2 linked regions of the Homo sapiens genome follow. The protein of the gene in region 1 purifies or fractionates together with the protein of each later gene. This does not show direct contact. Each region holds a gene or a part of one and is shown on either strand. Other genes may lie near its edges. The genes, in order: STK33 and FAR1.

What was found.
Region 2: the proteins of STK33 (region 1) and FAR1 purify together in Homo sapiens (affinity purification with mass spectrometry; one large-scale study listed by BioGRID and IntAct). This does not show direct contact.

The regions. Positions count from the first base shown.
Region 1 is NC_000011.10:8,391,090-8,395,274, reverse strand, and holds the end of STK33 (serine/threonine-protein kinase 33), read left to right. Parts: intron 1-2,564; coding exon 2,565-2,765; 3' UTR 2,766-3,405; downstream 3,406-4,185. UniProt on the Homo sapiens protein: Serine/threonine protein kinase required for spermatid differentiation and male fertility. Promotes sperm flagella assembly during spermatogenesis by mediating phosphorylation of fibrous sheath proteins AKAP3 and AKAP4.
Region 2 is NC_000011.10:13,674,966-13,678,791, forward strand, and holds part of FAR1 (fatty acyl-CoA reductase 1), read left to right. Parts: intron 1-3,826. UniProt on the Homo sapiens protein: Catalyzes the reduction of saturated and unsaturated C16 or C18 fatty acyl-CoA to fatty alcohols. It plays an essential role in the production of ether lipids/plasmalogens which synthesis requires fatty alcohols.

The sequences.
Region 1 (4,185 bases):
CAGCACAGGAAAAACCTGCCCCTGTGATTCAATTACCTCCCACTGGGTCCCTCCCACAACACGGAATTATGGGAGCTACAATTCAAGATAAGACTTGGGTGGGGACACAGCCAAACCGCATCAATGAATTAGATTGAACCATAGGAAATTGCCATTATTAGACTGTTTTTGACCTGCAACCAATGGAAATGACAGTGGAATGACAACCACATCCATTTGGTTCCACCTAATATTTGCTTGAAGATGCATAAAATCTCTCTGAAATTGTACACTATAAATTGACAATATTGGTTGTCTTTGGGGGCAGAGCTCAGTTAACTAGGGGGTAAGGAGGAGATTTTGAACATTGTGAATATTTAATCATGGGGATGTACTATCTATTTAAGAAATAAATAACTAAAATTACAAAAAAATTTGGCTGAGGAAAATCATTTTCTTATCTTACTACAAAATAAAACAGAAATATCATATTTCTACACCAAAGCAACTAAACATTGTTTAGTTTTCTTTTTCCTTCCACTTTGCCAGAAGACTTTAATAATGATCTCAAGATATTGTATCCAAGAAGAAAATACCAGCATCTGTAGCGTTTTTGGGAAAAAGAAAAATATTCTACATCAATAATTCTGTTCACAGAGACTGTTTCTGAGTATTTCTTCCTGGTGACTGCAACTCCTGAAACTACTATAATGACTCAATTACATTAACAAATGAAGCAGTAAAGAAGAATGGAACCATTAAGCCAGATATGAATATAAGCACATTAAAGGAAAATGAATCTTTATTCCTGCTCGATAGAATATTAGTTGTAGTGGACATGTTGAAAACTACTTCCTCAACAACTTGGATGATAACTCAAAATCCAAGTAGAAATGTCAAAAGACAGAAGGTTACACTTAGATTCACCTTTTAATAGCATTTGTATGTAAAGGTAATTAAATTTTATGAATTGAAATTTTAAAGATAGGGTGTATATCTTAGAGACCAGCACTGTACTAAACAAAGCAACTTGTTCTCAGCCAGATGCTCTAACATCAGGGGTGTTGTATCCTCACCTTATCACTGAACATAAGGAGTTTTCGATAAAAATACAACCTATGTGAGGGAATACTAAAGAATTTTAAATATTTTCTACCTCTTAAAAGAACACACAGAAATAACCCAGAAGTTTGCTTAGGGGGGAAAAGAACTAAAGAAAATGACCTTTTTACATTTCAAATTTTATAGAAATTAAAATTTTAAGGTACAAAATGATTTTTAAGTGTTACCTGCTCAAGAATTAGCATATACTGGTTATAAAATCAGACACGAGTGATGTTCTGAAGAGGCACACTTTAAAGGCTTTCTTCAGCAAGCAAACATCAGGTGGATTTTCTTTCTTGAAATATAGGTGCCAAAAGTCTTACAGGACCCAGAGTTTTATTGCAGCCCTGGAAAGTCATGGATTCACTAGGCAAACATATATTAAGTGCTACTACTGAATATTAAACGTGGTCATTACATCACAAGAACCTGAATGATCAAAGAAACACTGCATTTATTTTGTGTTACACACCATCTTATCACACTCTTTGAAAATTGTTAACCTGATTTTTAACCCAAGTGTGCTGTGACTTTCAGGTAACCAGAGTATTAAACCTGTGAGCTCTTTCCTCGATCATTCTCTGTAAACCAGAGCTTCCCTATCTCTACCCCAGTGGCTGGGCCCCTGTGCTGCTTTGTGGGTCTCCTGAGACAATCTCTACTCTTTTAGAACTCTATGCTCCAGCTTCACTTAATTAAAAGTGATCACTTTAAAAATGGGCCTAACGTCAAAACAGACCCTGCTTCCCTCATGACAGCAGGATTCAAGACCACTTCTTCCTTTACTGTGGAATGAGGCGACCTGAGAAAATACAATTGCCTGTTAAAACTCCATCTGCTTGTTTTCTACTTTAAAGCTCACATAGTACTTTCATGGCCACCCTTTCTCTTCATTCTTATGGTAAGCTCTTGTGGCAAATGTGCAAATATTATTTGCTTCCACTTAAGGGCAAGGAATAGAGAGGCTCAAAGAGGTCTACAGGCCTGCCTGAGTAGTGTGACTGGGATTAGAAGCCAGTCTCTGGAATTAATGTGGGAAGATAGTGGGGATGTGAGTGTGGGCCTTATGTAGCACTTCATACACAGATTAGAAAGAATAATTATATTGTACTTATCAGGGTATCCATACAAATGTCAGAGCTTGTGTAGAAATCTGTAAAGATGAAGTGAGTACAATTATGTCTAAGCGGACTTCCCTGCACAAATGTTACCAGACATTTACTTACATTTTGGACGACAGAGGTTTCGAAATTGAGCCTGTAGAGTTTGCTCCACACCAAACATGAAACAATTCAGTTTTCTTAAAGGTGCAAAAGGATCTTTTGGCATTTAATAATAATTTTACAATATGACTAGTTTGGACCCTATATCTAGAGAGGGCTCCAACTTGCAAATCCTGGACAACTTTGTAGTTCCTTGCATCTTTGAATTGATGTGCATTGCTTTGTGTCTGAAAATTAATCAAGACCTTTTATTTGCAGTCTACTGCTTATGAAAAGCAATTTCCTGCAACCAGTAAGGACAACTTTGATATGTGCAGTTCAAGTTTCACATCTAGCAAACTCCTTCCAGCTGAAATCAAGGGAGAAATGGAGAAAACCCCTGTGACTCCAAGCCAAGGAACAGCAACCAAGTACCCTGCTAAATCCGGCGCCCTGTCCAGAACCAAAAAGAAACTCTAAGGTTCCCTCCAGTGTTGGACAGTACAAAAACAAAGCTGCTCTTGTTAGCACTTTGATGAGGGGGTAGGAGGGGAAGAAGACAGCCCTATGCTGAGCTTGTAGCCTTTTAGCTCCACAGAGCCCCGCCATGTGTTTGCACCAGCTTAAAATTGAAGCTGCTTATCTCCAAAGCAGCATAAGCTGCACATGGCATTAAAGGACAGCCACCAGTAGGCTTGGCAGTGGGCTGCAGTGGAAATCAACTCAAGATGTACACGAAGGTTTTTTAGGGGGGCAGATACCTTCAATTTAAGGCTGTGGGCACACTTGCTCATTTTTACTTCAAATTCTTATGTTTAGGCACAGCTATTTATAGGGGAAAACAAGAGGCCAAATATAGTAATGGAGGTGCCAAATAATTATGTGCACTTTGCACTAGAAGACTTTGTTAGAAAATTACTAATAAACTTGCCATACGTATTACAGCAGAAGTGCTTCAGTCATTCACATGTGTTCGTGAGATTTTAGGTTGCTATAGATTGTTTAAGACAGCTTATTTTAAATGTAGAAAAATAGGAGATTTTGTAACTGCTTGCCATTAACTTGCTGCTAAATTCCCAATGTATTGATTAAATCAATAAAAAACAGATGTTACTCAGCACATTAATTTTTATGTTAACAAGAGGTGAATATAATAAGGTCCTCTAAGCCTTTATGCAAATTATAAGTTTGTTCTACTGCTGCAATGGTAGGCACACATCTTTGGGGAAGATCATGAAGCAAGAAACAGGGGACCATACCTCATTTCTCTTAGCTTTATAGACATCTCCTTTCCACCTGGGTAACTAATTTTGCCAGTTGAAGTCAAACTGGTTGAATAGCTACTTTCCTTTGCTTCCAAAGCAAATTCTAAAGAAAGAATTTGCAATTGCTTTTACCTTCATAAAGTCATAACCTAGTTCCATTCCAACCCCCCATGGAACTGTCAGGTCTCCAAAATGGCCCACATCTGGCCAGCTGAGCATATACTAGTTGCATTTAAATCCACTTGGTAACTAAAAATAGTACGTGTGCTTCTTGCAGTTAGTTTAGAAGACACTATTGTGATTCCGAATGAGTCAAAGATAGCACTGGCCTGTGTTGCCCCACGTGGTTCTGCCAGTATTTTCTTAGTACCTTCAGTGTGCTTTCCTTGGGGGAACCTGCTGGCCAAGGCATATCTAGTGGAAATTGTCTGTATTTTATTTTAAACTGTCATTAACATAGCTGCTTCAAGATCTTTCTCCCTTCTTGATGTCTAGTTCCAGTCGTATCATAAGCCCATAAACCATATCCTGAGCTTTAAGCTTTCTCTCAGGGTTTAGTAAGCCAGTCTTTAAAGGGCGTGTTCTGTTCACCTGATGAGAACTCTGGCTTCATTAGCTAAGTGGAGCCTTCCCTT
Region 2 (3,826 bases), 5.3 Mb from region 1:
AACTTTAAGAGTTACTAACTTGTGGTCAGTCTTGCTTCATCCATACCTCCATCCACTTCCTTCTTTATTTTGAAGCAAATCCCTAGACTTTTTTTTTTTTTTTAACCAGTTGTTACCATGCAGTGTGATAAGTATAATAATAGACATGTTAATCCAAGTGAGGTGCAAATTTGTTCATATAAATATATTTTGAGACTTGAGCATTATACTGTTCTGGGCACGAGAAATTAGATATAGTAAGCTACTGTAGGGCAGGGATAATATAATTGAAGAGACTGTACATATGTGAAACAGAATGTAGCAACACTGGATCATGTGCCAAAATTGGTGGTAGAGACTCTTAAGTGGGAACTGACATTATTTTAGAATGAAAGTAGAACTTAAACAAGTGGCGATAGAGAGAAAGAACATTCAGGGATAAGGTGAGGGTAATCACATGGATAAAGCGTGCGGTTAGGAAATCTAATTTTGGCGCTATAGAATAAGTTATATCTAAATCTGTATCTCTCTATCTTTATCTTTTAGACTACTACAACATGTAATTGGCATACTGTAGATGTTATATCAGAACTTGAACAAAGCCGGTTGCTGTAGCAGAAATTAGGACACACTACTTTGTGAATATATCACTGTTCGTGGTTAATTTTTTGGCACGTTCTGTTAAAAAGCCTTCTAAATATCTTAATACCACATGTATTAATGGATCCATTCTTGTTAGAATGTTTGTGGGTTTGTGCCATCAGCTTTGGTGTGCAGTTGTGTGTGTGTGTTTAACTTAAATGTTAACTATTTGACAATTTTAAGATTATTTTGAAATATCTAGTTTAGATCATTCTTGTCTTACATGAAATTTTTTCCAGAAATGTTGGCATAATTCATGAGAAATCCTTGAATTTAGGGAATTGTTACCATTATAGCTTATTTTGAAGTATTCTGAGAATAAAATCTTAAAGTATATTCCCTAATGCAGAAATTGCTTGTCAAAGGTCATGAACTTCTCTGAGCATCTCCTCAAAGTGTTGTGCTATCTCATCAGAAAAATGTACGTTCAAATATCCTTGGGGGGTCTGTGGATTCTGTCTTAATAATTTATTCTTTAATGTGTAGGCAGAAAGCATACTGCTAAAATTCAACTCAATTATCTTTCTGTGTGTTCTGCTTGCCTTTTACAAACAAGTGTTTTTAATTATTAAGAGTGATAAAATGATAAAGCTTATTATTGCAAATGCCTAATTAAAAAATTAGACATTCTTAATTGAATTCTTGGGGAAAAACAAGCTGTAGCCAGTTTAATAAATAGGAATTATTTCACTAAAGATTTTGGAATAAGCATGTGGTACTTTATTTATGGCTCCTGTCCATCCTGGATTAACAGGAAGTAGAATATATGACATATGAATGAATAAATGCATAAATACCTTTTTTTCCCCCAGAAGTAAAAACTTTGACTTACTGTGTCCTTAGGCAGTTAAGATCTGTGGAGGAAAGGATCTGCTAAAGTATTTTGAGGTTCACATCTGTGTTGAAACAACCAGAAGTAATGCAGGAGCTTAGAAACTGTTTTTGGCTGACAAAGGATTGATTCTCAGTGGAGCCCTGAGATACAAGTGCTCATAGTTCACTTAGTTTGAGGAATGGCCCTAAATGAGTTTCTTAGAAATAGGTGGTTTTAAAAACTTGTGGATTGTAATTAAAATGTAATTATGATAATGATTATGAGCATAAGCAGAATTCTCAGGAGATAGGAACAGGTGAATTAGCTGGTAATGGGACATTTGACCCCACAGAGCTGTGCACAGACTGTTCGAAGTTCAGTGAATATTAGGTGAATTGCTTTAAAGTGATACCCTTGTGACCTGTTGGAGTTAATAATTTTTCAAGTACCTAATCTACTAGTAGGAAACAACTTATTCCAATACATAGTAGTAAAAATACAGACTGTGAAAGCCAGAAGAGATTTTAACAATCAGTGATCTGGCCTCTCCTTCAATAAATTTAAAGAGTGATCAGAGAGGTTGACTTGCCTAAGGTCTGTTGGTTATGGCAATCCCAACAGCGTTGTTTCTCATTACCTGATTTTTGGTAAGTCTATTGTGCTTATTTATTTTGTTTGTCTTTTCATTCTGGATCTCAGTATTTGGAGAAGGAAGTATATTAACTTTAGCATGGTAACTAGATTATTGGTAAATTGGCTAAGAATTCCCTGAAATGTTATACCATAATGTTTTTACTTTGCCATCATATACTCCTTCCATCTTTAACATAATAACCCATAGTTACAAGATTTATTAGGGTAGGCGTGTTTTAGGAGCTTAATTCCATTCCACAGTTGGAAACAGATATTAAGAATCCACAGTTCTTAAAACATTTTCCTCATGCTTTTTTATACCTTTCTAGGATGATCTTTGCCTAACAGCATTTAGTTGCAAGCTGTGTCTATGAACTTGGCAAAGTTTTAAAAATAAACTAGGAAAAGATTTTTGAGAAGAGAGTTTGTTATGGGATTTAGTCATTTAAATACATTCCTAAAAGCTGTTTTTTCCCCACTCAAAACTAGACACTGGAAGGATCATTGACATCCAGGTTCAAAGAAGTTACTGCTTACATGACTGATCCCGATTCTGAGTTCTTTTGCCACATTTGGTTCATGTGGAAAGGCTGGCTGGGGCTAAGACTTGCCCGTACATTAGCGACATCATAGCCAGAGTGAGGACCCTTAGAACAGTGCCTGTCAAGCTTTTTTAGTCCTAGCCTTTTGGCTGAGTCATTCTTTAGCTCAATAATTTCTACTTTCTAATGGAATAATAACACTTGTCAAGGTATAAGCATTTTTTGGGAAGAGCTATATGGATGGTTCCTAATTGAATCACAAAAAATATGCTTGTCATAAAGTCTAGACTAATTAGAAAACTGCAGGCCTCAAATCCTAGTGATGGAATTGTATCAATATATTCTCTACAGTTATAATAAAATAACCAAAAACTAAATTGATAACGATGAGCCAAACCTAATGGTAATTTAATTAAAAGGCAAGAATAATGACAATTGAAAACGAAGACCAACTAAAGACAACACAGTTTCACTGATGGCAAGTGCCCCTCTTGAAAGTTACGGACTTCTACGTTTTGAGTATGCATATGTGGTAGGAGCTTGCAGCATTGCCAGTTGCAGCAACTGGATATACTAGTGGAATACAAATTGAAGTTTTTGGTACATTCTAGTAAAGTCTTCATTTTTGCAACTCTTGGTAACTAGCTTAATAGTTTATTCATAAGTAGCTTTATGGATTAAAGGAAGGTCATGTTTTCTTTTTTTTTGAGACTGAGTCTCGCTGTGTCGCCCAGGAGGGAGTGCAGTGGTGCGATCTCCGCTCACTGCAAGCTCCGCCTCCTGGGTTCATGCCATTCTCCTGCCTCAGCCTCCTGAGTAGCTGGGACTACAGATGCCTGCCACCATGCCCAGCTAATTTTTTGTATTTTTAGTAGAGACGGGGTTTCACCGTGTTAGCCAGGACGGTCTCGATCTCCTGACCTTGTGATCCACCCGCCTCGGCCTCCCAAAGTGCTGGGGTTACAGGCATGGCCACGAAGGTCATGCTTTCTAAATCATTTATAGTCCATCAGGAGGCTTGGCCCTTTCTTGGAAAATCATTACTTTTGAAGGCTGGTTTAGTAATCCTTGAGCTTCTCATGAGCATTATTTCCCTAGCTGTGTTGGGACATTTATGAAGAGCAGGGCTTAGATAGAATTTAGTGGGTCTTTTTTTTGTTTTTTACCTCAGGACATTTGTAATCTTTGATATGCTAATATACATCTTTAATCTGGT